Linked DNA regions of Homo sapiens: regions 1 and 3 are each linked to region 2. Evidence: fine-mapped expression QTL. A gene starts in region 2. Each other region holds a variant in brackets. All regions are shown on one strand. Distances are between the middles of the regions.

Region 1 (10,687 bases), 23 kb before region 2:
CTTCCACCTGGCTTCCCCTCGGTTCCCCTTCCTTGCTGGCCACTCTGGTCTCTTCCCTGTCCACCCAGCGGGCAGAGCCTTCCCCAGGGCAGGCCTTACCTTGATGACGTGCAGGGGCTTGCTGGGGTTGTTTCTGTCCAGATAGTTGATGTACCCGGACAGGGAGACACTGAGCAGGTGGTCCTTCTGCCATAGGCAGCCCAGCTGCTGGTCCAGAACCGTGGAGCCCATGGGAAATGTGCTGACCACGGAGTTCACGCTGACGTCCCAAATCTTGGAAGTTTTGTCCCCAGAAGCAGAAAGCAAATGGGTGCTGTCGGGACTCCAACTAATCTATTCAGAAAAAAGCAGTGTGTCATGTGCCAGAGGACTACAGACTGGAGAGAGACCCCAAAAAGCAGCTTGTCCACTGCGACTGTTTGAGTAGGACAGAAGGAGCCCAGAGAGAGGGTGGGACATGAGTGAGGCCAAGGACAACACCCGCCTCCAGGTCTCCCGTTCCAGCCACTACCTTCTCCCATCACCTTATTGCGACCTTAAAGCTTTTCTGGGCAGATATAAAACCGCCCCGACTTATAGCCCCTCATTTCAAGTTTTTGTCTAACTCCGGAGTGAGTGTGGATGGACTGACACGTGGACTCGGCCAAATTCCCACCACTAGGCCGGGAAACACGCTCATACTCACTGCGTAAATCCCACCGTCGTGGGCCTTGCTTCCGCCCAGCGCGCACACCTTCTCCCCAGTCTTCCCGTCATAGATGTATATCTTCCAAGAAATAAAAACATGTGGGTCATGTGTGTGTGAACACCCTCTGGAGTAAGCAGTTTCTCCATGGACTGTGGCTGTAGAAAACCGGGGCTCACAGACTAAGCTCCCAGTGTGGTTTAAAAGCAGACATGCATTTACTGGGCTCTGACGACGAGTCTGCAGATGTGGGGAGGGCGATGTCTAAGTTCTGCATGTCAGGACTAGCATTAGGCAGCCTGCGGCTCTGAGCAGTCACGGGAGCAGGCAGACAAGCCATTCCCCACCCCAAAACCCATCCCAGTTCTTACCTGGCCGTCAGCACTGGCTGTGGCAAATCTGTTCCCATCAGGAGAGAATCGCACACAGTTGACAAAGCGGCTGTGGTCCTGCAGGAAAACAATTACCTGCCTGATGAGGGGCCGCAGGCCTGACTCTAGGTTCAAGAATGCTCTCTATGAAACACAGCTTGCAGCTCCAGCTGTTCATCAGTGTGAACTGTTAGTCCACTGGAAAATTTCAGAGCTTAAAAAAACATCCTGGGCAGTCCCTTAGTGGAGGGGCAGGAGTCTGCTCCAGCCTGCCTGCCATGCTGACCGCTCTACCTGCTGGGAAAGCTGATTAGCCCGAGCGAAGGCAGACCACCTCCAGTTATGCCCCCCCCAGTGAGGTGCCCCCAGCAGCTGCCCTCTTCCCTCTGGGCTCTGAAAGAGCTCAAGCCCCAATCCTTAAGCTTCACGATGGCTGAGACCAGGAGGCCTCTTCCTGGAGGCACCAGCCCTGTCTGGCTCTGTTGCCCAGGCTGGAGTGCAGTGGCACAATCTCTGCTCACTACAAGCTCCGCCTCCCGGGTTCACGCCATTCTCCTGCCTCAGCCTCCCGAGTAGCTGGGACGACAGGTGCCCGCCACCACGCCTGGCTAATTTCTGTATTTTTAGTAGAGATGGGGTTTCCCTTTGTTAGCCAGGATGGTCTCAGTATCCTGACCTCATGTTTCCCCGCTTTGGCCTCCCAAAGTGCTGGGATTACAGGAGTAAGTCACTGCGCCTGGCCAATAATTAACTTTTAAACAAAGTTAATGATTATGACCTTCATCAAGAACAAGAGCCTGAGCGACTAAAAGGAAATGACATGACTTCCAGGGGCGACTCTGTTACTCGAATAAGGAAATGAATGCATTCTTTCCGCAGTCAACAAGAGTTTGTATCAGAGACTGATCCTTAAATAAGCAGTTGTAAAGCTGCCAACACCTGCCCTGCCCTCTTGCTGCCCACCTGCAGGCGGCGCTAACCCGGCAAATGCACATCCAGTGCTAACAACTCTCTTGGCACAGGAAGGGCTCGCTGCTCAGCAGGTACGAACACTAACCTTCAGGAAAAGCAATTCAACCCCAAGGCGGATAAGCTGCCCCGCGCTCTAAGTAAATCACGGACTTAATTTTAAAGCATGAGCTACCTGTGTGGGGGACCTGCCTGTGTTTGATTGTGTAATGTTTTCAGTTGAATTGTGCCTCTCCAAAAGACATGCTGAAGTCCCAACCCTGGGACCCAATGAGACCTTATTCAGAAACAGGGTCTTTGCAGATGCAGTCCAGTTAAAATGAGGTCATTAGGGCAGGCTGTAAATCCAGCAGGACTTGGTGTCCTTTTAAGAGGGAAATCTGGACACAGATACAGAGTTGGGGTGAAGCTGGAGGCAGAGATGGGAGTTCTGCTCACAAAAAGTAACCCCCAGGGCTGTCAGTATCTGGGAAAGACAAGGAAGGACTCGGAGTGCGTCCCTGCCCACACCTTGACTACAGACTTCTGACTTCCAGAGAATAAATTTCCATTGTTTAAGGCACCCAATCTGTGGCTTAACAAACTTTGTTATGGCAGCTGCGGCACACTAACACATGTCATCAATGCTGCCTCTGACACTCATGTAATAACCCACCAAGGTGAGCTGTGCCCATTTCACCAATGAGGAAACATAGGCCCAGAAAGAGGAATCAGGTGCCTGGGGGTCCCAAGGGCCACACTCAAGGAAATCGATGTCCCCACAAAGTCCGTCAGAGTCAGCAGAAGATACAGACACCGTTCAGTCTGGCAATGTCCCCAGGGCAGGCAGTTCTCGTAGAGAGGCCACTCCCCGCCCCAGAAATCTCTCTAGGCCCAAGAGTGATGCGACCCCAGACCTGTGGCACAAAAGCAACCCTGGGCTTCCTGCACTTCAAAGATTAAACCATTTCCTCCAGCCAACAACCCAAACTTGCTTGCCTCAGGTAAGCCCTCCTCAGGGTGCTGCCAAGACCTGCTCACGGCTGGGGTCAGGCTGGACACAGGCCCAGCAGGCCCTGGCCCTGCACCTGAACCAGGATCTCCCACCTCATTGACCCGTGTTTTAACTTAGATGAAAGCCGGAGAAATCACACATTCTGACAAGGGGAGTCCCAGTGCTCCTCGGGAGCTACTGAGGGCGACGACAGTCACGTTTCCATCCCAGTGGATGAGCAGATTGTCCTCCCTGCCTCATTTCAGGGAGTGCTGTCATGGTGCTTGCATTCCGTTCTATGACTGAAGAGCTCGTCCTCTGTAGGTTGTGGTCACCGCCCAAGAGGACAGGGATGGAAGCACCAGGCTGGCTCAGTCTGAACTTGGGCTCAGGTCTGTGATCAGCTCATGAGCGATGGGGCTGGCGAGCCCTTTGCCTGCCCCCCGCACCTGGGTGCTGCAAGGCTTGGCCAGGCAAGGCAGTGCCAAACTACAAGGCGTGCAGTACCCAGGCGGGCCCAGGGCTCACTAGGAGATGGAACGGGGAACACAGGACTGGACGGTCGTCTCTGGCTATGGTGCTAGAGGTCACCCTTCCTTGTGTTTAAGCGCAGTTCTGCATCTTGCTTCTTTAGTTCCTTTTGTACCTTTTTCACTAGTTCTAAGGCTGGTCTTCTTTGCTTAAATGGTCTGTGTTCTAAGTTTTCTAGCACTTCTAGGTATGTGAAGTTGGGGAAAGCAGTTTCCCCAGAAGGCCCGATCCACTCAGCTGCTGAGAGTGAAAACCAACTTTCCAGATGGGGCTCCAGGGCCCTCCAGAGACGCTTTACCCCCCGAGGGGCCATGGAGAGCCTGCGGGCAAATTCTTCACAGGAGAACACCAGGCCTGGAGCAGCGGGTAACTCAAAGCCACATCACCTGCACGAATCTGGTCTCCAGTTTCCTGTCCAGAGCTCTCGTCTCAGCTGCGCTGGCTCCTGGGCCTTGGGCAGCTGCTCAGCAAGCCTGGGGGTGCTCCAGCCCAGAGTCATCCCAGAGGTCAGATCCCTAACTCCGCAGGCCCATTTGCATCCCCCCTTCTGCTGTTACCCACCATGAGGGAGCCGTCATGCACTGAGGGCCTGTTCCCGTCGGGGTTAGCCGATGGGGTCCACCTCCTATCTGTGTCAACATGGCCCACGGTCCCTTGTCCATGTCAGTCCATAGGGTCCACATTCCCTGTGTCAAAGGGCCTCACAGGGCAGTTCCCGAGAGAGCTGCAGGAAGGAGCCGGCTGCAGTGAAGGCAGTGGTGGGAGGGCCTGAGGCAAAGCACTTCTAGACCCCCTGTTGGGCGGGGGGTGGACAGGGGTGTATGCACCACTACTCCTTCCAGATGAGGCCACACAACCTTGACCATGACATAACCACAGCTCGAATCCTAGACCTCTGACCAGCACATCGAGTTCTCTCGCTGCCGAACTCCGCTTCCTTGGCCAGCACAGCCTCGCCTTGCCGCTGACTTCGCACTGGCTCCTCCAAGCCAGCCTGAGCTTCCTTGAAGTGCAGTGGGCCAGGGAGATGGCTGGGCCTGGCTGACCCCTGGGTCCTTCTGACGAATGAGTTAAGAACTAAGAGAAAAGAGCTCACCCCAAATGCCCGAATCACCCAAGCCCAGATGAGTGGGTGGGACAGTGGACGCTGATGGCTCTTGCTACAAAATGGAGGAAACTAATCAGCCACTGTTCAATTCCAACCTGTCACAAGTGCCCATTTCAGTGGCTCCCTGAGGTCAAAACATGGACATTCCTACTCCAGTTCCAGGTCCCAGAAGCGAGGACATTCCTGCTCGCGCAAACCCCAGGACCCCAAATCCAAGTCTGTGGTTCACCTCTGCCGACGCCTCCCACAGGCTCTGGCAGGGTGGTGTCATGTGTCCCTCCCTGGCCCCAGAACCCAGCAGGGGCAAGGGAGGGGCCCGGCACAGTCCAGGGACACAGATGCCCCTCGAGTAGCTCATCCCCATCACCTTTTCCTGCACCTCGAGCCAAGGAGTCCAAATGCAGACACTGATGTCTGCTCCTGAAATAGCCCCTTCAAAGAGAGAAGCCGCGAAAAGCCCATTAACCAAAAAAAGCGAGGGCTAAAAATAGCCCTTTCCACACGGAGGCCCGGCCAGTGAACAAAGAGGGAGAGGGATTGGGGAACCTCCCGGGGAGTTCAGGGGCAGCAGCTTCCTGAGGCTGCCCTCACCGGCCCCCTGCCTCTGCCCCACCCCAGCCAACCAGCGGGGCTGCAGCAGTCTCAGTCCAGCCTCATCCCTGGTGGACAACTGACGGTGTCCGGTCCACACTCCTGCCTGTCCTCCCTTGCAGCCAACACATAGCCAAGACTGACCTGTATCAACGAGCCCCCCTCCCCACAGTCCTCACTCCCTCCCACCAATATGCTCCCTCTCACCACC[G/A]AGGAAACCGAGGCTTGAAGCACTGAGGTCATAATTAAGTACCACACCCATGTCAACATCACAGAGCGACAGAGCGCTGCAGGCCCCAGCTGGCCTGTCTCCAGCACACACATGCTCACTACCTACCTAGTCAGCTCAGGAACCCTCTGGGAGCCCACCCCATTCCCCCCAGCCTCAGCTGACCCTGTACACAAGAGGACCACAAGCCCACCCTTAGGCTGTTCACATGCCTATGAGCTGGTAGAAGGGGACAGGCTCTCGGTCCCCTGTGCCCAGTCCCACCCCACACAAGCCCAGCACGGGCCTCCACGACCCTTGGTCAATGGGTGTTCCCAAAACACCTTTACACCGTGACCTGCGAGGCTGGCTCTGGACCATCCTTCAGCCCACCCATCCCCCGCAGCAAACTTCCCTGCAAAGTGCCCTGGGGCAGCCCTGCAGCCCGGTCCACTTAGTTGGGCTGAGGGGCACGAAGGAGCTACCCACCCAACTGCCTCTCCCGTCACCCGGGACGGGTCAGCTCAGTCACCATGTTCCCTGGAGAACAAGGACCATATGAAGGGACAAGAGGCTCATCCTAACTAACCGTCCTTGGGGCACCTACTGGCCATGTGACCTGGGCCAGGTCACCCTCCCTGCTGTCAGCCCCCAGTTTTCAGGAGTCAGCCATCAGCCCAGTGAAGAGCAAGGCCAGTCGACAGGAGGGGTGGCGCGTGCTGAAGACAAGGGAGGCGGTCCTGCATGCCCATCACAGGGGCATGGCCCAGGCAGCCACCATACATGCCAGAAGGGCTGAAACATCTGCTCTCTGCCCTGTCTTGAGTGAGGAAATATGAAAAAGAAAAACCACCAGAAACCTTGCCTGTTTTGAGCTCAAATTTTCCTTATCTATCAGGAAGGCAGCACTTCCGGTAACAGCCACAGCTGAGGTTTCCAGCCCTGCTTGGCTCCAGCCTCAAGTGGGAGAACTATGTGAGGTATGAGGTCCCCGCAGGGCAGAGGCAATGGAACAGAGGGAGCAGTGGCACCCCAGTGAGGGAAGCCAGAAGTCTTCCGTGCTGAACATTTTTCCACCTACAATCACAGCTTGTTAGATCTGGCAGTGAGTTCTCAGTTCTGCATCATAAGGCTGAGCCCCCAGGACGACATGCTGCTCTAAGTAACCATTTCATTAGACACAAACTATCCAGTGCACCACCAACTCCTGGGACCTAGGACATGCACACAGCTGTGAGCCACACTCCAGAGGGGGCGTGTGGTCATCCTAGACCACCAAACCAACTGCTCACCCGACCGGAGGAAGCGGATGGCCAGAGAGGCAAAGAACCTGGCCCAAGTAATGCGCATGGCGAAGGCAGACAACAGAGAGAAACTCAGTGGGGCCTTTAAACCCATCCAGGAGTACCTATCCCAGGAGCCTGCCTGGCATGAAGACATCCCCATGGGTGAGATGGGGGAAGGCAGGGAGATGGTCTCGCCACCCTCCCTTTTTCAGGCCACGGTCAGACCCTCTGAGGGGAACCTACCCCTGGGTTCGCAAAATGCCAGTGCTGGAGACCCGAGACCACGGTGCCCAGGGTCTCCTTTCAGAACCGTTCTCCTGTAACCCCGGAAGTTACTTCCGCAGGTCACCTACCGCGTCTTCAATGTCACTGGGTAGGAATGAGCCGGCACCCAGGCTTATTCCAGGCCAAATGTTCCTCCACTCCCATCTTCCTGGAGCCTCATTCAGGCAAATGAAGACCAAAGCTGGGCTACGGTCCCTCAGGACGAGGGGCACACAGGGAATGCTGCTTGCATTTCAGCTCAGGCACAGCATCATGGAGTTCTGCTTCAGCTTGTACTGAAACGCCTTCAGAACATGCCTTGTTCCTTTTCAAGGCAGCAGCTCCAACACGACCCAGCTGGTCCCTCCGCAGTCATACGCCAGTCCCTCTCCCACCTGGGTAACTAGGGAAGCACCTGCCACCCCAGCGCTGCACCCCCAAGCTCAGGGCAGCTTCCTGGTCCCGGCCACAGGGGGCCTCTGCAGGGAGTGGGTGCAGAAGGCGCAGATGAAGACAGGCCCGAGTTGCCACCACAGCTGCTCATTCTCAGGAGGCGAGGGGCGGCAGGCAAGGCCACCAAGGCCTGAGCGCTGGTGCGGAGGCAAAGGCAGCCCAGACTCAGCCGTCATGTGCTGCAGAATGAAAGATCTGGGGAAAAAAGACCACTGCTATGTGGATTTCACAGCAAGTGGAACTTAATTCCCTCTAAAATAAAAAATGCCCACATATGGTTTTAAAATCTTTTACTATAACAGGCTCAATTAATTCCTGAGAACTTCCACATCCCAGGCTTTCCGACCACATCAGAAGAGCCCACATACGGGAGGAAGCCCAGCGATGCTCAGCCCACCATGTCCTCAAAGCTGACTGTGGCTGGGCCTCATGTTAGCACTCACACCTCCTCTCACTTCCCCCAGCCTGCACGCGCTCCCTTTGTCTTGGGGTTGGTCATGGAGAGCACGACCGCAGCTTTCCTCTGGGGTCCGGAGGGCTTAAGTGCAGATACACACCAAAGTGTATCTGCAACTCAGAAGGTATTTGGGGGCAGGTGTGGGGTCCCTGAGCACCCTTCCTGTCCTTCCTATGCGTGGGCAGTTGAGTCCGCACATGTCTCCTGAGCATGTGGATGGTCACTGCTGCCTCTCACACCCTCCCTGTGGCTGAGGGTGCAGCACGCAAGGGTCACTGTCACCCTGTTTCCGGGAGGGCCCAGAGGCATGACTCACCCGAGGGGGGCACAGCCACCTAGCTCTGTGCCAGGCCACAGCCCTTTCTATTTCTCCCAGGTCCTCAGGCAGGGCCCATGGTTGTGGGTTCCACAAAAGACTTCAAGACACATGGTGGTACCCACCCTGGAGCTGGGCTAGCTGGGCAGACATTTGTACCCAACACTCCTGGGCCAGGGCAGTGGGGTGAAGTCCTTTCTGAAGTTAGAAAGGACAACTAAAGAGAAAGAATGTTCTGGACAAGTCCCCAAGCAAGCACACAGGGGCACAGCAGCCTGGTGAAGAAGACAGGCTCCAGCCCACCCCTGGAACAAACTGGTGCCCCTGACCCTGCTGAGCACCCTGTGCTGGGTTTAATGCACAGCTGCAGAGTGGAAATGATCCCTCCCAGGGCAGGCCAAGGAGCCCCCACCCACAGCCGGCTTCTAGCTACCACAGAAGTCTCTGAGCTGCTTCCTCCTGCCCTGGGCTGAGATGGGGTGTGCAGCTGACTCAGCATTACTCACCCTGCTCTGCAGTGCCTCCACCCTAGCGAAGAAACATGGCCTGAAGCCACAGCCTTCAATACAGCTCCCAAAATAGCCAGGTCTCCACTACCTACCCATTAGGTGGTAGCCACAAGAGCAGAGTCTGAGAGCTGCCGCGTGTTCAGCTGCATACAGGGAGCCTCCCTATGCTTTCACCTGCCCAGCCAGGCCCAGCTCAGCCTGCGGTTCCGTGACAAAATGAAGCCTGTTTCACTACGAACGGGGCATCCTTGGAAAGCCCCCTCCTGTACCCTAAGCCAAGAACAGTCTCTGGAAATTCTGCTCACTTTGTGGGTCCCGTCCTCGCCCTTTCCAGCTGCACTGCGCAGGCTATTTATGATTCATGGCATGATGTCACTAAAATGGACAGTGCTCCTCACTGAGCCACTTTAAGGACATGATCTCATTAATCCTCCATGAGGCAGACAGTGAAACCACTGACGGTTCCAAGAGGAGTCCCGAGAACTTGGTCCAATCTGCAAACACAACCTCCTCCAAGGACATCAACAGTCCCTAAAATGTGCATTTCCGGGTCCATTGTTCTTGTCCATCCTCAGCGCAAGCACAAGCGGGATGGGGAAAGCCAGGGCAGAGCCGTGGGGTTGTGCTGAGACTGGCTGCTGGGCTCCTCCCCTCACTCCTACAAAGCTGGGGCAGGAAAATGGGCATCACAGATGCTCCAGACCTGCCAGGTGGCTCTCCTACTTCAAATTCATAGTCAAAACCCTCAGATGCTGCTGGCCCCGGCACACCCCCGTCTTGCAGAAGGGAGAAGTGAGGAGGCTTGGCAAGGCCTGGGTGCCTAAGGCGGGGCGCATGCACGGCATGGGCCTCTGAGATGCTGCCAGCTACACCCAAAGCCTGCCGCATTTCTGGCACATTTCTTCCACAAAGTATCTTTCAGTCTTCTAACCGTTTGTCACTTTGCAGGCGCATCACTGCCCTCACTGTCTCTAGGAGAGACCAATCTGGATGTCCCGCAAGCTCCCTTCCTCTGCCACTTTGGTGGCTCAGCTAACAGCAGGCCCTGCAGGCTCCCCTCTCTAATGAGCACCTCCAGCCCCAGATGCTTGCCTGGTTACACGGTCAGGGACATTCCTGCCCCAATCCCCGACAGGCACACATCATCCTAGGGCAGGGCCCTTCCTTGTGGGAACCATCCATGCCCAGCTGAGGGCCTGGGGAGGACGAGTGCTGGGTGGGGGAGCCCTCCCTCTCTCTGCACACCCCTGGGAGCCCACTTCTGTGTATCATGGCATACGTGGCATGTGCTGTGGTCTCTGCCATCAGCATCTAAACAGGCTCAGCCTCTGCTAGCCTCATGTACAAACCACAAATTTCACCCAAAAAGTAAGTTCACTTACGCCAATTGTGAACTTGAACTTGAATGGGGGTCCCTCAAAGAATGCCGCGCAGTTATCATCGCTTCCCGTGGCCAGCCGGTATGGCCGGCTCTGCTTGATGTCCACGCTGTTGATGACTTTGTTGTGTCCTGTAATCTCGCCCACAGAAGAGCCACTATCCCAGAGGAAGACTGCTCCAAACCTTGACCCAATGACACAGGTGGAAGACAAAAAAAAAAAAAAAAAATCAATCCCAGAAGGCTGGTAAGCAATCTGATAGCTGAGCTGCCAGTGCACAGAGGATGGAGTGACTGTCAGCAGGCAGCTCAGAACGCCACAGGGACAAATGAGGGAAGCACTGGGGTTCTGGCTCCACAAGGCATTTGTCCAAAGGACCCAAGAACAAGATGGGGCAAGCCGGCGCCTTCGGGAAGGGGATGCATGTGTGTGTCTGTGGGGCCCCACGCCACAGGGCCCAGGGCTATCTTTACAGCTTCACCATTCTCCTTACAGTTCTATTGGGAGGGAACAGTTACCATCCCCTACAGGAATGAGATGCCCTGCTCTTGGCTGACATTCAACAAAAACACTGTTTTAGTTACTAT
Region 2 (10,687 bases):
TTCCTAATTGGCTTCCCTGCCTCAGATCTCAGATACAGAACTTCTCCTTACCGTAGGCTGGATCTGATTACTTGTCTGTGAGACCTCTGAATGGCTCCAGTGGCCTTCAGAGCAGGGCTGCGCTATGGTAGGGCTGTGTGAGCCACCTGCCACCACTGCACACCAGCACTTCTCAGCCTGGGTCCTGTCCACTCCCCTCACGCTCAGTGCCACAGTAACAGCCCATAAGCACCCGGCCCTTCGGTCCTCCCAGATGTGGTCCCATCTGCAGAAGCCCAGCGTCCTGACTGGCACCTGCAGCCACTCAGATTCTCCTGAGATGAAGGCCCCCCACCACCCTCTGCTTCCCCTGCCATCAGGTGGTCAGACTGAAGGCCTAGAGGTTCCTGGCTCTGCACCTGGCAGGCGCTGCTGCCAGCTCGTTTGCACCCAGGTGATAATCCAACGCACCACTTCCTTCTGCCACCTAGAGTTTATTTCACTCCCACCCAGGACAGTGAGCTCCATGTGGGCAGGGCCTCCATCCTGCACCCCCACAGGCCAATGGCCATCTGGATACACGCAGGTAGTCAGCAGGCGTCCAATTCCGGAGAAGCAGCTAGGTCAGTCCTCAAGCCCTCTGTCATGCCACCATTACCCCCAACCCGCAGGAAACACAGGTGAGTCCTCTGCATGTGAATGGTGGCAGCTCACACCAAGGGAAACCAAGAGTGAGCCCAATACCCTCCCCAACCCCCCACTTGGTCTGCCCCCTGTTCAAGGAGAAAAGTCCACTGATACTGCGCCTGGGTTCCCAGCAGTGTCAAATTGCTATAAACCTTGCACTCCCGGAAACTCAATTTTATAGACATCATTTTTCCAAATGTGTATTTTAGTTCTGGAATCTAGGAACTGGATACTTTAAAAACCAGGCCCCAAACTTGCCTGCATAGCAAATCTGCTGGCTGCCTGGCAGCACACAAGAGGGCCTCTGTTGTGAGGCAAAAGTTGCTTTTTTTTTTTCTTTTTCTAAACAGGGACTACTGGCACTACTGGCATTTTAGGCTGGGTAATTTTTATTGTAGGATGGTCCCGTGCCCTGTTTAGAATCACAAACAGGTTCGTTCACAGCCATTGGGGGTGACCCTTCCCAGTCTTTGCACAGAGGTCATAAGAGGCAGAGGTGATGCAGGCAGGGTAAGGAAACTTAGAAGGAACCACCCCAGACCTAAGGAGGTACCAGCACCTGCAGGAAGCCTTCCTTAGACCCCCGAAGCACAGACTATCCATCCCTTCTCCGTGGGGAACTAATGTCTCTCAAACACAGTGTACATATGGTTCACTGGAATCCCCTTCTTGGAGCTCTCTCCTTCTGGAATATTAGTTTCTACATGGCCACCATTATAGTCTTTCACTCTACAGAGGAGAGTTGCCTCTCCAGGTGAGGCAACGAGATGTGTTGAAATAAACAGGTAAGAAACACCCTTTTTCTACAAGTTTAAGAAGTGCCATTATGCTGGGTTCACAAAACAGCTTTTAAGTCAACAAAATAAATGACAGAGGGGGCTCCAAGTGCAAAGCTGGCAACGGTGCTCGCCTCTTAGGTATGAAAGGCGATTCCACAAAATTTAGGTCCGGCAATCTACACTGAGCTGAGCTTTCCTTGTTCTCATGCAGTAAGACCTCAGTGGCTGCCTATTATCTTCACGACACAGCCTGGTTTTCCAGGCTTTTTAATCAATGAGTAACTCACTGAGCACCTACTGTGTGCCAGACACTCTCTTAGGCGAGGACACGGCAGTGACTGAAAGAGAGGGGAAAGCCCTGCTGGCCTGGAGCTGATGCCCAGTTAGGGGGACAGGCAGATACCTATGTACACTTGTAGGCAGCCGTAGCCTGCTGCTTGTTAGCTTGCTTCCTACTTATTGTCAGCAATGAGAAAGACAGAAGGCCGGGGATGGAAAATTCTATTCCGGGGACACCCCTCTACTAAGGTGACTACATCTAAGTATAAACCAAAGGGAAAGGCCTAGTGTGGTGGCTCACGCCTGTATCCCAGGACTTTGGGAGGCCAAGGCGAGCGAGCAGATCACTTGAGGTTGGGAGTTCAAGATCAGCCTGGCCAACACGGCGAAACCCCGTTACCTACTAAAAAATACAAAAATTAGCCAGGTGAATTGGCACGTACCTGTAGTCCCCACTACTCGGGAGGCTGAGGCAGGAGATTTGCCTGAACCCGGCAGGTGGAGGTTGCAGTGACCCAAGATCACGCCACCGCACTCCAGCTTGGGCGACAGTAAGCCTCCACCTCAAATTAAAAAAGAAAAACCAAAGAGAAGACAGGGAGCAAGACTTGCAGCTATCTGAGAAAATGTCCAGGCAAAGGCAATAACTAGCAGGTACCAAGACAGATGTGTGGCATGTTCAAGAAGCAGCAAGGAGGCAAGAACGCTGGAGCCGAGGCCACGGTAAGGACTCTGGCTTTCACCGAGGTGGGAAGCCACTAGAGGCCTGTCTTGTGTTTCAGCCACTCCAGCGAGTGTTGTGAACAGACCCCCAGGGCAACAAGGGTGAAAGCAAGGAGACCTGTTTGGTTTTCGGGAGTCTGGGGGCAATAAGTCAGGTGGGGGAAGATAGCTTAGTCGTGGGTGGAGGCAGAGGAAGCCAGGGAAATCTGTTAGATTCTGAAGATACTTTGAATGTGGAGTCAGAAGGATTTACTAAAATTAAAATGTGGCGCAGTAGCGAAGCAGAGAGTGAAACAGGAGTCCAAGGTTTGGGGCCTGAACAGCTGGAGGAACGGTGTTCCCTTTTAGGGGAAGAGCACGTGGGAAACACAAATTTGGCTTGGAGTATGTATGTTGAGTCTGAGATGTCAATGAGACATGTTAGATCTTCCATGATCTGGTCCTCCATTTCTTCCCTCTTCCCTCCCTGAGCCTGCATTCCAAACAGACCATCATCCTTCCTGAACGGTCATGCCAATTCATGTCACTTTTTTTTCCAAGAGTACTTTGCCCTAAAAAAAATCGTACCCACCTTTACTTGAGTACCCAGTCCACCCATCCAACTAACAAGAGACTCAGTGCCTGATCTACATCCAGCCCAGGGAGGGCTATATTAGTAGCATCTCGTGCTGACCTGGCATTGCAGAAACTTAAAAATAATTGAGAAGGGAAACAGGGTAACCCCTGAGAAGAAAATGGCAAACCACGGGGAAGGGGTAAGAATACAGAGCTCAGAAACAGGCAGAATGGGTTTCACAAGCTGGGAAATGCTTTCTGCAAAGGGGTGCCTGTCCCTGAATGACCACTCCATTAGAAGCAGCTCCAGTTACTGGCCTGCCTCACCTTGCTAAGTCTGACTCCTCTTTAGAGTAACGGACCCATGTGGGGTGGAAAGAGATGCTACAGTTTAAGAAGCTATCACAGGGCCAGATGCACAGCAGGTACTTTATGTGAGGCCCCCTCCCTGGAAGTCAATGTGGACTGCAACGACAGGGAAGGCCTGGTTAGGGGCAAAACGAAATATCCTACTGCTCTGTATCCGAGGACGTGTTAGTGGATTTTATTTGCCAAACTACTAAATATCTCTTTAGGGTTGTCTCAATTTTTATTTTCTCAAAAGCCTCAGGACCTGCCTTCGGAGACTTCCAGATCATTACCATTAGATCCCTGGTGATTTTCTCCAGTTCTAAGCAAGGCCCTTCGGCTTTCTAGGAATCTGTGTGACTAGCAAGTTGTTAGCACCTTCAAAGCACATTCACACCCGCCCACCCCCTCATTTGAGGGGCCCAGCAATCCAGGGCAGGTAGAGCTCTGTCTTCCAGCAGAGGAACAGCAGCGACTGCCTGGGTTAACGAGACAGATGCGGGCAGAGCCAGCAGCTCTTCGGACCAAGAGGCTTCTCCTTTCACAGAGAAGGAAACTGAGACCCAGAGACCCCTTCATTCCCTCAGCCAGTTGCTGGCCTCCTGGAGGGCAAGTGTGTCCGATCAACAGTCCCAACCTACCAAGGGAAATCAGGCTGACTTTAAGTTGACAACCCTTGTATGCCTATGGCATCAATCAAAACATACATCTTTGTGCCAGCCGCCCCCACTAAGCACAGCACAGGAGAAATCACCCAATGGCCGGGCCGGCACCTCCAACTCCCACCCCACCAATTCCATCACTCAGGCTGAGGAAGGGAAAAGCAAAATTTAAGCGTGTAACCCAGGAAGGGAGGGAGACTGACAGACTGGGTCACCCCAACAATTACAGAGGAATAACATGAATTTGCAAGGATTTCCCAAGGAGCTGGCTCTAGAAGCCTTTTCAGCCTGGGTACCGGAGGCTTGCAGAGAATGATTCATGGGAAAACACTGCTTCCTGTTTTTGCTTTGGGGCTTAGATCCATGGTGGCAGATCTGGCTGGCCCAGAGGCCCGGGTGTTTTTCCGGGCTCTGCCATACTGGAAGACCAGGGTATTAACAGCGAGTTAGCTGAGTGCCATTCCATTCAGCAAGGGCTCAAAGTGCACCAGGCACCGCTGGGCTTGAGGGACGCCAGCAGCTCATTCATTCCATCTGCCCAGCCAGCAGGCGAAGCGAGAGTGGTCATCATCTCATCATCTGTTTTACAGACGAGAAAACTGGGGCTCAGAGATGCCCAAATCGCCAATCTTCTCAAGGTCACGCAGCGGCCGACCGGGTCAGTCTGATCCCTCAAATCCGGAGCCCTTGCTTTTAAGGAATGAACTAATCTAATCTCCCATCCACGTACTAACCAGGCCTGACCGTGCTTAGCTTCCAAGATCAGAGGCGATCCGGCGCTTTCAGGGTGCTATGACCGTAGACAGAAACGAACTAAGACTCAGTTTCCTCATCAAGAAGGAGCAGACAAGGACCTGGGTGAATCTGAGGCCGGCTTCCGGGGCTCCGAGGTGTGGCTCCCGGTAGAGGGGGCGTGGCGCCCTCACCCTCCCCGGGCCAATGGGCAGGAGGTGAGAAGTGGAGAGGAAGGCGAATTATCCCATCCCAAGGTGGCTCCGGAGCAGAACCGCGCCCGGGGTAGGGGGTACTCACGTCGATGTTCCTTAGGATGACGCACTTTCCATTGGTGTACAGAAAATTGTTGCCCTTAGGGTCGCCGCCGATGATCTTGGAGACGCCCCTCTCCACCTGCGGGAGGCTGGCGAACACCTTCTCTGCGGAGACACAAATGCGGCGGGGCATGTCAGGGCAGGGCGGGGACGGCGGGGACAGAAGGGAGAAGGAGCCCCGGACCGGTCTCGGCCGGTCACCTGTTGACTGCGCCGGGAGGGCGGCCTCCACTTTCCACGAGCGCCAGGAACCGCGCGACTTCCTGGTCCGCGCCCCGGGCCAGGCCCTTGGGGGCAGCGGGGCTCCTCCGGCTCGGCCCACGGCGCCAACTTGGGGGCGCACCCCCCGTCGGGGGTCCCGCCCTGCACCACCGAGGGCGGCCCCGCCACGCCTCCGGCCGGCGCCCGCACCCCTCCCCCGCGCCGAGGACTCCCCCGCCACCCGCACGGCGCCTAGGGGCCGGGGACCGGGGCCGGGGCAGCGCGGCGGCCGCTCGGGGGCCCCGCGCCGCGGCACTTACTGATCTCGTACGGCATCCTCGCCCACTTGTTACCGCGCCGCGCTCGCCGAGAGCCTCCGGGGCCGGCCCGCGCTGCGAATTACACCTCGCCGAGGCCGAGCCCGGGGACTGGAGCCGGAAGGCGGCACCGGGCGTGCCGGGAGTGGAGTGGGCGGTCCGAGGCCGGGGCTCAGAGGCCAGCTCGCGCCTGCCCTGCGCGCTGTGGTTGCGGACGCCCCGAACCCGGAAGCGCGGTCCCGCGCGCGGCTCGCCCCCAGCTTTGACCATATATAGTCAAGCGCTCGGCTCGGCGGCTGCGGTCCCGGCGAGCCTGCGCGGACCTGGCGCTCCCCTCCCCCGCCGGCCCCGGCCCCGCCTCCGCCTTGCTCGCCCCGCCCCGGAAGTGACGTATAGCACGCCCCGCGGGCCCTTGAAAAGGCGGCGCAGACAAGCAGCCGCGTCAGAATGCTTCTGGGAGTCGGGGGGTGGGTGCCTTTCTGTTGCTAGCTTGTAGGAGAAGCTGGGCTGTAGGAAGTTTATTTGCGGGGGGGTCTTAAAGACGCTGAAAGTACTGGCGGGCTTTGGTGGGGGTCTGGAAAAACCTCTCTGTACCTGTGACCGCGTTGCGTGGCGGGCGCTCCCCGGCCTCTCCTTTTTGACCGGTCCCGGGCGTTGCCCAGCCGCCAGTCCTCCTGCTCGGGTTTTGTAAGCAGGAGAGGGATGCTTTTTACGTCTTCTTAAAGTACGGTTAAGTGCCCTTGCTTGAAGTAGTTGCTGGCAACAAGAACGTAGGGGTTACTCTTTGTTGGGCCTGAACTCGTGCTTTTTCTCTCAAAAGTTGAGCTTTTGAAAGGCAAAAAAGGCGTGGGGGATGGGGGAGCTGTCGGTCTTAAGGAAGTTAAAGGTTATTTCCTAAACAAAACAAGTCTCACTCCTAAAACCAGGGTAGTGGCTCAGTTGTGGCGGGAGAGCAGGGGCTGTAAAGTGTCCAAGTTTCTAGTCTCATCTTTCAGTAGGATGGGTACAAGCTTTCCCCTTGGGGCTCTGGGGGCTGGGAGGGTTGTAAAAGTGGGAGAAAGCAAAGTATTTGGCGGGGTGCGGGCGGGTAGCTGAATGTTGTTGTAAGTGGAAGAGGAATGCTGTTGGCGTCTTTCTCTAAGCACGGTTAAGTGCTTTTTCTTGAAGTAGTTACTGGCAACAAGAACGTAAGGGTTACTCTTTGTTAGGCCTGAACTCGTGCTTTTTCTCAAAAGTTTAGCTTTTGAAAGGCAAAAGTGGGGGTGGGGGCGCTGCTGCTTTTAAGGAAGTTAAAGGTTATTTCCTAAGAAAGCAAAACAAGCCCCACTTGTAAAACCCGGGTAGTGGCTCAGCTGGAGAGCAGGCGCTGTGAAGTGTACAAGTTTCTAGTCTCATCTTTCAGTAGAATGGGTACAAGCTTTCCCTCGGGGCTCTGGGGGTGGGAGGGTTGTAAAAGTGGGAGAAAGCAAAGTACGTGGGTGGGGGGTAGCTAAATGTTGTTGTAAGCGGGAGATGGATGCTTTTGGCGTCTTTAAGCACGGTTAACTGCCCTTGAAGTAGTTGCTGGCAACAACGTAGGGGTTACTCTGCTGGGCCTGAACTTGTGCTGTTTCTCTCTCTCAAAAGTTAAGGTTTTTAAAAGGCAAAGGCGTGGGGAGAGGGGTAGGGGAGCTGCTACTTCTAAGGACGTTAAGGGTTACTTCAGAGCAAAACAAGCCCCACTTCTAAAACCAGGGCAGTGGCTCAATTGTGGAAGGGAGAGCAGGGAATGTGAAGTGTCCAAGCTTCTAGTCTCGTCTTTCAGTAGCGTGGGTACAAGTTTTCCATTGGGGCTCTGGGGGCTAGGAGGGTGGTAAAAGTGGGAGAAACCAAAGTACTTGCGGGTAGCTAAAAACTCTGAAACCCACGCTGTGAGCGGTTCCTGCTTCTCTGAAAGGTCTGTTCTGCTTAAGGTTGTATCAAGGTTAGTCTCTTGCTACCTACTTCTGTAGAGCAGTCTCTCGTGGCTCACCTGGGTTAGTGGCCATGTTGCCTGTCTCCTATTCTTCCTAACCTTGTGTGTTCTCCAGGTAGCTGAGTGATCCATCCGAAGTAAAATATTCCTCAGCTTGTCTGTAGGGGCTCCAAGTTTCATGAAGTAAAAGCTAGTCTTGAAAACGGCCCATTAGGGTCCTGGATGACAGTCTCCGGGTCACTTAGACTCCGTTGTCCGCCTCCCCTCATCTGTATCATCTTTGCCTTGGGTACTGGCTTCGGAGGGTGTTTTCCTGAAACTCTTACCTGAGATCTACTTGGCTGACTCCTGTGTCCTTCAGAAGTACTTAATTGCTCAAATGTTAGTTGATGAGTGTCACCGGTCTCATTTTAAATTGCAACTTCAACCCCTTGCAAACACTGCTTCTCATTCCCGCGTTCCCTAACTTTAACTCTCAGGAATAACCCTGACACCTGGAAGATGCTCCTAGGGATGACCCCACTCCCCACCCACAACTGTTAATCAGGAAATAACGGATATGAAAGTAGCTCTGCGAACTGAGGAGCCGTGGAGAATGTACAAAACAGATTCCTAAAGTAAGATACGCAGGCCCGGCTTGTAGGCCGCTGCATCTGCTTTGATAACTTAGAACTCATCAAATCACCTTGAGACCCTTAAAACAAATGGTATAATTGCATTCACAGGTAGTGCATTCGTGTAACAAGATTAAGAAAACGAAGGACCAACTTCAAGCTCTTGCAAGCTGGTAACCTTTACACTCGTGCATAAAGCCTTGCTGGAGTTGACACTGAAAACTAAACAGTCGAACTTGAGTAAAACATATCCAAACTCCCAGCTGCTGGGCTCTACAGCTTATTTTTAGCTTGAAAGTTACATGTTGGAGCTGCAGAGGCTTTATGGTGGTGGTGGGGGAGCTGTTTGTTCGTAGTCACTTGAGTCTATATGAACGTGGCAGGAAATCTGAAGGATGTGAAAGGAAAATGGGAAACACCAGGGTGTTCCAGGATTTTCCCTGTGGGGCGCGAGCTCAGTTTGGTGTTGTCAGCTGTGGGAGCTTTAACACTTGAACCGTCTTTACTGTGGGTCTAGCCTATTCGTTGGGCTCCCCTAGTCACCACTCATGCCTTCGTGTATCCTGTTGTGTTGGGCCCCCACTGAATTAAATAGGGATGGCACCATGTTCGAGAAGCCGAGGCGACCCAGAGCCAATGAACACATATGGTGTATGGAGGGGACTTGAATACAGAGTGGTCCAGAGCAGCCAGCTGGGACAGAACTGCGCTTCAAAAAGCAGTTGATACAGATCAGGTACACCTACACTCCCAAGGTGTGGCTAAGCCGCTATCAGGTGTCAAGCGTGTAAGGGTCACTGCCAGGATATACTTGAGTTGCTTTCAGCTGTCATAACTCTCTAATAGGATGGGGATCCTGAGGTCTGCATACACCAGTGGTTCACATCTCTGAGGACCCAGCTACTTCTCTGGCCCTTTCTGGAACCTGTCTACTTGGAGCTCCGTAGGAAGGGTCTGAAAGGCCCCTTACTCGCACTGAACGACAGCCAGAATAAGACTAATTTGCCTTCCCCTTCCCTGCTGATTTCTCTGGGGTGCTGCTTCCGATAGTGACCAGCGTCCTTGCATCTCCAGCTGCACTGACCAGAAATCTCACCCCCCACTTAGGTTAAAGCCTTCACTAAATCTAGTTGCTTAGAACCTCTGTATCAAATCTTTCTGTAGCCACAGCCCTGCTTTGGTGCTCTTTAACCTGGGTTATTCTAATTTCTTCCTGACCAGTTAATCTGTATCTGCTTGGAGCCCCTTACTGCAGCCAGAGAAACTTTAAAAGCTTGTTGAGCCTTGGGTAGCCTAGGTTTCTATCTTGAGACCGAACATCCTCCCTGGGCTTCTGAGACACTGGCATGCTGAGGCTCTGCCTGGCTCAAGGAGCAAGTCTCCTGGGTCATTCTGTTCTGGCACCTGTCTCTGGGTCTTCACTGATGCCTCAGTTTAAGGCCAATCCACCCTCAAGCTATACTCCCATTTTGTTGCACACTGGTTTGCTTATGACTATGGGGTTCATCAGCGTCTCGACTCTCCCCTTTTTAGGGATTGAGAGCAGGGACCTTGTTGCTCGAGCACTTGTTGCAGGGGCCCACCCAGACAATTGGAAACAGAACGCAGGTGTGCCAGATCTATGAACACCTGCGTGCTTTTCAGACAGTGGCAATTCTTCCTTTTGCTGTGTGAGCGAGCAACATAAGTATCACCTGAACTTAATTCTAAAGTGGCAACAATGTGTTCTTGAAACTTCTAAGCAGCAGCAGCTTAGGATACTTAACTCTTCGACTACCTTTGGGGTAAACTAGCTCCAATTGGGTAACTTGGGCAAACCGCTAACTGGCGTCAGGTGCTAAATGAGCTGTTTAACAGCTTTCCACTCAGGGGAAAACAAGTTTGGAGTGGGTTCTGAACGCTTTATGTAACGCAAACAGTGGGGGCGTGTGGATTCCTGGAATGCACCTTGTCCTCTGAGCACGCTCTGAGTCCTGGCTTCTAGAGCCACAAACTGCAAATACGTCAGATGTGTGAGGCCTATACTGGAAGCTTTGGGGAGGAACAAAGCCACAGGAGAGCTGAATTTCTCTCCAAAGCCTGTCAAGCTGCTTCCTCACTTTCAACCCTCATGGGTTCTGTCCAGGCTCAGGAAAAGGGGGCTTTCTCTTTCCTGTTGCTTCAACTGTATCAACCCCCTAGGAAGAGCCCTATGCAAGGGTAGCGCTGCTCCCGTCTAGCTCACCCTGTGGACTGAACCCCCGCCCTTTCCACAAAGGACTGTTGGGTATAGTGGGGGAAGCCTTTCTGCTCCAGGAATTTCAGTCCCTTTTGCAGGCCTGTCCCTGTCTCATAAATAAGCTCAAGTCATATTCAAAGTTTCATCTCCGGAGTGTCCCTGGAGTAAATCACCTTTATCTACTACCTCAAGCCAGTCTCGCTGCCTCCACCTCCCCATCTGCACAGGGAGTTGGAGTGATTGCCAGTGAGTCCTCTAGAGGGTCTGACACATGGTGGGAAGTGGCTGCCCACAGCCTGAGTTAATGTGTAACGCTTTTAGC
Region 3 (10,687 bases), 54 kb before region 2:
AATAACTCAACGAGGAAGATTCCATGATGGCTCCACGTTCCAAATGAGGAAACTGAGGCACAGAGAGGTTAAGCGACTGGCCTGGAGTAGATGCTGACAGTCTGAGATGTATGACTCTGACCGCTAAAGCTTTTTATGGAACTTGGGTCCCTGAGACGTAAATCAAGGTTATGGCCACTGAAAAGGAGGAAACAAGAACTGGCATAGGTTCCAGATCTTGCCATTGTGTTCGTAGAAACCCTAAAAAAAAAAAAAACAAAAAACAAAAAACAAACTCTTGGAAAATTAATGGTAGTTTAGCACAGTGGCAAGAGACTTGGTGCATATCCAAAACTCAGTCATGTTCCTGGTTAATAGCCCCAGTCCACAGAAATCTAAAAATAAAGAGCCCATTCACAATAGGAACAAAAATAAAATATAGGAAAAATTTGGCATGAAAGGTGTAGTACGTGAATGAATAAAACTACTAAACTTTATTAAGGGGTCAAAGAAGATTCAACCTTTGGAGATACGGTCTGTGTACATCATAAGTATTATAAAAATTGTATTTCTTTTTAAATTACCTATAGATTAAACGAATTCCTCTTTTTTTTCCAAATCAAAGTTGGGCATGGTAGTAATTTCTAAACAATTTGAAAATTTCCAAGTACAATATAAAGAGTGCCTTCTGAGTTCATGGCAACTGCCAATATCTCAGAAATGAGGAGTCAGTCATCCTGGGCACCTGAGTCAGTTCTAGATTTTATTTCAGACTCAGCCATCAATGGCAGTGAGATCCTTTTTGCTTGGATGTATGTGGGTGCACTCAGATCTAAATTAATCAGTTACAATAATTGTGTCACAGTTTTAAAATATTTAAATTGTGAAACCTATCATAGGTTTAGAAATACGTATCAAATGTATATGTACAATTACCAAACAAACACATGTAAATGAACACAGAGCCCCTGAAATCTGAAACTCTTGTGTTCTGGGATCCCCTGCCTGTGAGTGTGGGCAGAACATGTGACCTGCCTCTAGTCATACGGGGGATGGTAAAGGTGAGGGGATGTATGTGTTCCACATATGTGATTATGTGTTTCGTTACATAAGATTGTAACATGAGTCTTGGCTGGGTGCGGTGGCTCACATCTGTAATCCCATCACCACGGAAGGCTGAGGTGGGTGGATCACTTGAGGTCAGGAGTTCAAGATCAGCCTGGCCAACATGGTGAAACCCCGACTCTACTAAAAATATACAAAAATTAGCCGAGTGTGGTGGTGCGCATCTGTAGTCCCAGCTAATTGGGAGGCTGAGGCAGGAGATTTGCTTGAACCTGGGAGGTGGAGGCTGAAGTGAGCCAAGATCACGCCACTGCACTCCAGCCTGGGAGACAGAGACTCAGTCAAAAAAAAAAAAAAAAGATTGTAGCATGAGTCTTGCTGGAGACTCTCTGTCCCTTGCTGGCTATAAAGAAGCAAGATGCCATGTTGTAAGCCACCTTATATGGTAGCCACGTAGCAGGAAACTGAGGAGCAGCCTCCAGTCCTCAGCAGGCAAGAGACCAAATGGTGCTGACAACCACATGAGCTTGGAGGCTGATCCTTCCCCAGTTAAGCCTCAGATAAAACTGCAGCCCAACCAACCAACATCTTGATTATAGCCTTGCAGAGAGCTGTGCCCAGAGTCCTGACCCACAGAAAATGTGAGATTATAAACATCTATTGCTTCATTTGCTAAATTATTTGTTATCTTATTATTCACCAAAGATCAATAATATGGCCACTACTCAAGTTAAGCAATAGACTTTTACCAACACTTTAGACTCTCTCATGTACCCTTCCTAATCACAGCTCCTTCTCTCCTCCCCAGAAGCAAGCACTATCCTGATTTTTGTTTTGATCGTTCCTTTGCTTTTCTTTATAGATTTAATACCTATATAAGTATCACTAAATAGAATATGCTTTGCTTTGAAAATATGAGTATCAAGCACAAACGTAACCGTAGCAATTTTTTAAAAGGTCAGTGGGGTAATTTTTAACTTGAAAATGTGACTTTGAAATTGACCTTGAAAATAGTAATGACAAAATATCTTGAAAAATTACTATAAATTATTTGTGACATCATAGTTTTTATAAAAAAGACTTTTTAATGAAGTAGCAAGTTAAAAATATCTAGTTGAATCTTCACCTCACAGTGTGCTTGTGGCTGCACACACACACACACACACTTATACACACAGTGTCACACATCCACACACTTCCACATTCATGGCTGATTGATGGATAAGGACAAAGTAAAATCACAACACAAAAGAAAATAAACGTGAATATTCTTCTGACTTGGTAATTAATTTTCTAAGATTTCTAAGTTTAAAAGAAATAAAAAGTCATGAAGAAATTTACTGATAGATTTGACTACACAAAGATTGAAGTCATTTTACCAGTCAGCAACGTAAACATTATTAGAAAACAAAATTTAATCCATGAGGCATATTTATGACAAATATAAAATAGTACCAGCTCCTGAATACACATATGAAGAGTTCACACTTCAAAGTCTAAGACATTTACGTAAGGAAAAACATAGCCGAATAATAAATACATTAAAAATGATCAAACTTGGCCGAGTGCGGTGGCTCATGCCTGTAATCCCAGCACTTTGGGAGGCTGAGGCGGGTGGATCACCTGAGGTCAGGAGTTCAAGACCATCCTGGCCAACATGGTGAAACCTCATCTCTACCAAAAATACAGAAATTAGCCAAGCATGGTGGCGGGCGCCTGTAATCCCAGCTACTTGGAAGGCTGAGGCCGGAGAATCACTTGTATCTGGGAGGCAGAAGTTGCAGTGAGCTGAGATTGTGCCATCGTACTCCAGCCTAGGGGACAAGAGTGAGACTCTGTCTCAAAAAAAATAAAAAACAAAAAATAAAAAAAAAAAAAACGACCAAACTCGCCCATGCAAATTGAATTGCAGTGCCATACTAGCAAAGTTTGTTTCAAGTTATGATGCCTTAAGTTGATGAGGGTGGGATGAGACAGGCTGACCATTGAAAGGAACACAAATTAATAGAATATTTTTGGAGAGCAGTTCAGTAAAATTATTCCTGTCTTTCAAATGTGCATAGTCTTTGTCCTGGTTATTCCATTTGTAATAATCTCTCCTAATCTATTAATCCTAAATACAAGGTTTATGTTAAAACACATTTACCAAGACATTTGATTGGCAAACATGGAGATAATGTCGAAATTAGGGGAATAATTAAATAATGGTTTACTAGTTGGGTAAGATGCAGATATTTTAAGATGAGGTTTACTCATAGTTTGTAATGACAGAGGTAACTCATGGCCACAAGTTAAAACAAAATAAAGTTGGAATCCTGTAGTAGACTGTTAGCACCAGAGAGTTTTTTGTGGTGTTAGATCAGGATCAAATCCCCACTATGCACCTACTTGCTGTGTACCTTTGCGGTAGTTGCTTAATCCTTATGAGCCTAGTATTTTTGCTCATAGGTTTGTTTTAAGGCTCCAATGAGATGACTAAATACAGGAGGTCTTGCCTATTCCAGACACTTGACAAACGTGTCCTGCCTCCTCTTGCTAATAACGCTGAACATGGGATGATGTGACACAGAGAAAGGGACAGGATCAAACATTACATATAGACTGATTCTAAATTTAAAATACATGTTTGTCCACAAAAAGTTTGAAGGATAGAAGTAATTGTTTTAAACTTTCAATTGAAAGGAAGTGAAAGTGTTGGCTAACTATATTTCCATAACAGTGTGGCTTCTGTCTTGGTAGGGACTGTGACAATCTTGTTCACAGGGTCCTTGTCCATAATCTTAACCGGTGGGAAATCTCACACCAATCTTATTCCCTTAGGGACTGACGTATGAAAATCTTGTGATGTTCCACCCCAGATGGGAAATAGGGTTTGGTGTGATTTGGGGGTTGACAAAATGACCCCCTCACAATCGCACCACCTGCAACCCTGGTAGTCAATGTGCATTGGCACCACCAGGGATGCAAAATGCAGATTCGCAGAGAGATTTGGGTTTGGTAGGTCTGGAATAAGGCTGGGAAGTGCGTGGTGCGCGCGTGTGTGTGTGTTACAGATAGTAAAGTTTATAGATCTTAAGTATAGAGCTCAGTGCATTTTTACATAAGTACGTGTATAACCACCATTCAGGTCAAGATATTGACCATTTCCAATAACCCAAAAGCCTCCTTGATGCCCCTTCCCAGTCAATAACTCCCAGCCCCACTCCAGGTAACATTATTCTAATTTCTGGCCCTACAGAGTAGTTGAGCCTGTTCTTGAGCTTCCTATAAATGGAATCACACAGCCGATACTCTTATGTCTGGATTCTCCTGCTCAATGTCATGTTTATGAGATGAATCATGTTGACTGTATTGGTAGTTCCTTCACTTTTATTGCCCAATATGGATAAATCACAATCTGTTTGCTCCTCCATTCTCCTGTTGATGGACGTCTAGGTTGATTCCAGTTTGGGGCTATTGAACAGTGCCGCTCAAATGTTCCTAACCATATCTTTGGCTGGGCATAAATGCTCCATTCTCCTGTATATTCTTAGCCATGGAATTGATGGGTGCAGGATAGGCATATGTCTAATTCTAGTAGATGCTGCCAAACAGTGGAAATCCATATTTTTAAAATTGAAAATTATTTGTAATTGACACATAATAATTGTACATATTTATGGGACACATATTATATTTTGATACATGTAAACAAAGGTATAATGTTCAAATCAGGGTAGTCAGCATATTCATCACCTCAAATATTTATTATGTCTTTATGCTGGAAACATTCAAAATTCTCTCATATTTGAAACCATTATGAAAACAAATTATCAACTACAGGGCCATAGAATGCTATAGCTTATTCCTCCCATGTAGATGTAATTTAGTAACAATTAACCAACCTCTCCCTATCCTCCTCTCCCCATCATCCTTCCCAGCTTCTAGTAGCTACAGTTCTACTCTTTACTTTTCTTTCTTTTTTCTTTTTTTTTTTTTTTGAGATGGAGTCTCATTCTGTCACCCAGGCTGGAGTTCAGTGACGTGATCTCAGCCACTGCAACCTCTGCCTCCCAGGTTCAAACGATTCTCCTGCCTCAGCATTCTAAGTAGCTGGGACTACGGGTGCGTGCCACCACGCCTGGCTAATTTTTTGTATTTTTAGTAGAGACGCGGTTTCATTGTTAGCCAGGATGGTCTCGATTTCCTGACCTCGTGATCTGCCAGCCTTGGCCTCCCAAAGTGCTGGGATTACAGGCATGAGCCACTGCACCCAACCTATTCCTTACTTTTATAGGCTCAACGTTTTTAGCTTCCACATACAAGTGAGAACATGTGGTATTTACCTTTCTGTGCCTGGCTTATTTCACTTACCATATGATCCAGTAATCCCACTACTGGGTATATATCCAAAGGAAAGGCAGGGAAATCCATTTCCCAAAGAGTTGTCTGCACTCCCATGTGTATTGCAGCACTATTCACAATAGCCAAGATATGGAATCAACCTGTGTCCA[T/C]CAACAAATGAGTGGATGAAGAAAGTGTACATACACCTCGGAATACAAATTTGACCACGAGAAAGAATACAATCCTGTCATTTGTGGCAATGTAGCTGAGCTGAAGGAAATCCGTATTTTTATAAGTCGTTACAGATAGGGGTGGTCTTGGACCACACTTTGAGAAATGCTTCTTGGATAAAAGCCCCATTATATGGACAAATATATTTCCTTTAGTCCTCAGTTCAAGTAGAGAAGGGCTTGTTTATACGGAGATACCAGCTAAGTGATTTGGGGAAGTGGGGAGAATGAGAAATCAACTGAGTGCCACCCATTAGCACCCCTTCGGAACAAATTATTGCAATTTACCTCTTTTGCCCAAGAGAAAGAAGCTGAGAACAGAGAAGCTTTGATAGGATTTGATAGGGAGAGTGAGGCGCCAGGCCACCGTGTCCAGTTAACCAAGCCTCCTCCCACCCTGGCCATGAGCTAGAATAATGCTCATGTATTTGCTGGTTAAAGGAGATGGCTTGGGGACCTGGGTTATCCCTGCAGGGAGCAACTATCTCCTCTGCTCATCTTAAACAAGATAATTGCAAAGCGGTTCCCTGCCAGCCCATCCTCTTAACAAAGAAGGTGAGATAAAAGAGATGGCATTCCTCCTGCTGGGCCCAGCAGGCTTGACAACCAGTGCCAGTCATGGGGAAAATGTCCCTTTCAGCCAACTCGAGATCTTTCAAAACAGACCCAGGCAGTTTCTTTGAGGGCTGAAAGCCAGGAAACGGGTTCCTGTTGGCCGAGGCTTGGAAGGAGGGCCTGCCTGGTCCGTTGGCCCATACCAGGCTTCCTTAGCGCCTCTGCTAGGAGCCAGTTATCCTGCAGGCTGACTCAGCCTCTGCCCAGCCATGATCTGAAGCTGCTCTCTGCTGTTTTAAGCTGAGCACTGCAACCAGGGACCTCAGACACCAGAGACAATGCAGGCCTCCAGAAAGCAGGAGAAGGACTTCTAAATCAAGGCTGGCAGGAGGAATGGGAAATGGGCATTCAAGGACATGGCAGTATGCTATGCTCTGTACATCAGGACCTCATGGAAACCAGAAAGGTAGGATGATAATTCCTATCCATGCCAGGCTGGACCTCATGTCCCTCATCGGGCTCCCACAGCTGTGTGAGCATTCTTTACCAACGTGGCACTTCTGGAATCCCTTGTTTACCTTCTTCTCCACTGCTCTATAAATGTAGTGAAATTTCCAGGTGTGGTGGCTCATGTCTGTAGTCCCAGCACTTTGGGAGGCCGAGGTGGAAGGATCACTTGAGCCCAGGAGTTTGAGGCTGCAGTGAGCTATGATGGCACCACTGCACTTCAGCCCAGGTGACAGAGTGAGACCCTGTCTTTAAAAAATAAAATAAATGCAGTGACACAAGACAACCTATGTCTGTTTTATTCTCAAAGCTGCGTGTGTCCCCAAAGCCAAGTGAGGTGTCTGGGCCTAGTTAATGACCAATGAACATTGGCTCTGAAGGAGTGAAATTACACCACTCGGGCATATTGACACTAAGTTAAAGCCACTTGAAAAACAGCAGGTGTGGCCGGGCGCGGTGGCTCATACCTGTAATTCCAGCACTTTGGGAGGCCGAGGCGGGAGGATCACGAGGTCAGGAGATCGAGACCATCCTGGCTAATATGGTGAAACCCTGTCTCTACTAAAGATACAAAAAAAAAAAAAAAAAAATTAGCCTGGCGGGGTGGTGGGCGCCTATAGTCCTAGCTACTCGGGAGGCTGAGGCAGGAGAATGGCGTGAACCCGGAAGGCAGAGCTTGCAGTGAGCGGAGATCGCTTTACTGCACTCCAGCCTGGGTGACAGAGCAAGACTCCGTCTCGAAAAAAAAAACAAGAAAAAGAAAAATAGCAGATGCAAGAAGATCACTCTGACCTTCATGCCATTTGTTAAAAGCAAAAGATGAGATCCCTATGTGAAAGATGCAACAGTCTTATTCTCAAAGATGAGAAGCTAAGATGGAAAGAATTCTGTACCAACCTTGTGCAAATAACTCTTACCTTTTAAGCCTCCCCACATCATTTAGTTGCTTCTTCACAACTTACTATTATTTGTCCAATTCAGTATATCTGACTACTTCTTCAGGACTTTATTTCCTTATGAGGGTACCTGTGCTACATAAAACTTGTATTTAAAAATGTGCATGCTTTCCTCCTGTTCATCTGTCTTATGTCAGTTAAATTCTCCAGCACAAGCAGGACCCTAAGAGTATGGAAGTGGAATTTTGCTGCCCCTACAGTTGATTACATGAGTGAATAAATGATTGAGTGAATTTTGAATTATAACGAAGAAGCTAAATATCTCAGTCATGGTTTTTCTTCCTAAGAAAATTAATCTGTTAAGATCACAGAGTTGTAACAACAGCAACAAAAACCTAGCTCTTTAAAAATAAAAAGGAACTCTTTTCTGAATTAGCAATGTCCGGAGAGATTTTTGGTTGTGACGACTGGGGCAGGGGGTACTACTGGCATCTAATGGGGGCCAGGGATGCCGCTGACACCCTGCAATGTACAGGACAGCCCCCACACAAAGAACTGTCCCACCTGAAATGTGAGTAGTTGGTTGTGCTGAGGTTGAGGAAGCCAACTCAAGGAAGTCACCTGCCGGAGGGATGCTGTTGACACTGCTTGCTACAGCAAAAGCTGCTGCTGAGAATGTGCTCCAGTTGAAAGCAAAGACTGAAAAACTGAAAAGAGCCAGGCGCGGTGGCTCACACCATAATCTCAACACTTTGGAAGGCTGAGGTGGGCGGATCACTTAAGGTTAGGAGTTTGAGACCAGCCTGGCCAACATGGTGAAACCTGTCTCTACTAAAAATACAAAAATTAGCTGGGCATGGCGGCATGTGCCTGTTAATCCGAGCTACTGGCGAGGCTGAGGCACAAGAATTGATTGAACCTGGGGGGCAAAGGTTGCAGTGACCTGAGATTGCGTCACTGCACTCCAGCCTGGGCAACAGAGCGAGACTCCATCTCAAAAAAAAAAAAAAAAAAACCAGAAAAGAAAGGAATAACTGAAAAGAGCAAGAGCCACTTAGAAGCCAGATATGGTGGTGCGTGCCTGTAGTCCCAACTACTCGACAGGCTGAGATGTGATGATCCCTTGAGCCCAGGAGTTTGAAGCTGCAGAGAGCCATGATCGCACCACTGCACTCCAGCCTAGGCAACAGAGTGGGACCCAAGAAGTTTTTTTAAGCCACTTAGAGAAGGTTTTACAAGTTACATGAGCAAAAGCTAAATAACTAGTACATCCATGTGCCATAAAGTGAAGAAACGGATGAGGTCTCTATGGGACATGTCAGCTAAACCCAAGAATGTGTTTGTTTCTTGTGGCTGAGACAGTGATCAAGGCAGCTTTCCTCCCAGGGCAAAGACTGTGGTTTGTTTGCGGCCATTTAATTTGGCAAAACCTGAGTTTTGATGAATACTTTGCAATCTTCAAATAATATTCATTTTGTTTCCAAATCCAATGAACTAGAGGCTGTAATTGAAAGAAGAAGAAAGGGAGGGAGGTAGGACAGAGAAAGGAATAGAAAGAGGGAGGGCAGGAAGGCAGCCATGAAAGAAGGCGTAATTGTCAAAAATCCAAGTTATTTGAGGCATACTGCTTGACCTGACTTTATGCAGTACAAACAAAATCAGGGTAAGCTAGAATTCAGAAGACAATGGTACCACTGTGTTTCTCTCTGGAGCGTTCTCAGAAGTGTGACCTTTTCTAATCCCAAACTGCTTAAAAAATGATGTCTCCTTGGGGTGCCATTTAGATTAATCTGTGATGGGACCAGAAGCGAGCTAAGCTGATGATTCTAATTCAATTGCCAGTGAAATGGTGTCTGTCTCCATCTGTAAACGTCCTCATCCTGCTCTCAATGGGGCCACATTGACGGCTGCAGCCAGCATTATCCCTTACAATCCTTTTAATTTTTTGGCTGCATGATGTGATCTTCTGTGAAGGCAGCACTAGTTCAAACGAAGTATTTCTTATACAAGAGCACGAGCCCTCAGTTACGTTCTTAAGAACTCATTCCTTGCCTGTGTGCCTAAACCACCCTAGCTAATAAACTCCCCTCAAATGTGGCTTTCCTCATCTCACCAGCCTGGTGGCATATGCTGGGGTGGGGGCGTGTCATGCCATTTTATGCATGGGGGTTCAGGGTCTGTGATTACCTTGTCCAAGGTTAATCAGTGGGTGAGAAGCAGGTGCAGGACCCCAGGCTATTCTGTTCACAAGGGTAGTGCTTTTTTCATCAGACAACACACATCTCTATGGCAGTGTCCAAATGGTGCCTAACGTAGAAGGTGGGCCCCGAAAGTGCACTTCAGTTTATACTGGCCACTCAGCCCGCATCTGCTTGCAGCAAGCTTAAATGTGTCTGACTGCGGCCATCTTGGCTCCCTCAAGGCCACCAAAGCAAGTCCTGTGGTTGCTTCCTTTTGCTATTGCGAAGCCCCTTCAGAGTCTACTTTGTCCTACTGCAGTAGCAGTGAGGCCCGTCCATCAGGGATGCTGGGCTATGAACCGGGCTTCTTGTCTTGCAGCCACTTCCATCATCCCAGGGATACAAGTTACTCCAAACCTAGCTTCCCTGCAATTCCATTTCCCACACCAAAACATGGAAAGGATAATGCTGACATCCCACCAGGGCCTGTGGGGACAACCGATTTTGTTGTGTGACTGAACAGCTTTGCCATCTTCAAGTCCCTATGAAGGCACAAACCCTGATAGCCATTTATATGTAAGACACTAGTATGATGAGCAAGGAGGTTTTTATCCTTCTTAAAAAAAATAAATAGGGGAGTGGAAGAGTGGAATGGTCATTGTACCAGATCAGGTTATAATCGCAAAATGCTGCAACAGAATCTAAGTGAAAAGACCCAGTTTAGGGTCCCTGGGGCTAGCCTGGCTCATGGGACAAGAAAACGTGCGTCCTTGGCATAGGGTATCTAATGTCTTGGGACGTCTCTGGAATGTTTCATCTAAGATTCTTTTTTCCTTTTAAAATTAATTAGCTGATTAAGAATTAATCACATGAACTATTAATTTGTATTGCTATTTATTAAAATATTAATATTTACATAATTTATTGATATAATATTCAATTGTTTGATAGG

Direction of the effects. Positions count from the first base shown, and alleles are read on the strand shown. Sizes are in standard deviations (SD) of each study's normalised expression. Not every link is listed here.
In carriers of allele G in region 1, the expression in testis of the gene that starts at base 5,731 in region 2 tends to be lower than with A alone (small effect, 0.29 SD a copy in GTEx).

Evidence for each region.
Region 1: its variant is fine-mapped to the expression of WDR1 in testis (GTEx, PIP 0.99).
Region 3: its variant is fine-mapped to the expression of WDR1 in whole blood (TOPMed, PIP 0.99).

What each region holds. Positions count from the first base shown.
Region 1 is chr4:10,087,608-10,098,294 of GRCh38, forward strand. It overlaps WDR1 (WD repeat domain 1), which reads right to left. Exons shown (of 15, transcript NM_017491.5): 5 at 10,104-10,284; 6 at 1,057-1,134; 7 at 686-766; 8 at 100-333. Among named protein-coding and RNA genes, the nearest start is that of MIR3138, 14 kb to the left of the region's middle. RefSeq lists enhancers at 3,588-4,358, 6,673-7,443, 8,021-9,220, 8,625-9,114. The variant G/A (reference allele first, on the strand shown) is at 5,440.
Region 2 is chr4:10,111,069-10,121,755 of GRCh38, forward strand. WDR1 (WD repeat domain 1) reads right to left here and starts at 5,731. Exons shown (of 15, transcript NM_017491.5): 1 at 5,583-5,731; 2 at 5,045-5,166. The coding sequence starts at 5,598. It overlaps LOC124900666 (a long non-coding RNA gene), which reads left to right and starts at 6,021. Exons shown (of 2, transcript XR_007058030.1): 1 at 6,021-8,150; 2 at 8,259-8,409. It also overlaps the pseudogene RNA5SP155. RefSeq lists silencers at 517-811, 5,273-5,422, 5,503-5,912, 5,923-6,042 and enhancers at 2,255-2,755, 4,588-5,392, 5,043-5,192, 6,963-7,062, 7,143-7,232.
Region 3 is chr4:10,057,477-10,068,163 of GRCh38, forward strand. LOC124900665 (a long non-coding RNA gene) reads left to right here and starts at 6,538. Exons shown (of 2, transcript XR_007058029.1): 1 at 6,538-6,618. RefSeq lists an enhancer at 5,867-6,481. The variant T/C (reference allele first, on the strand shown) is at 5,538.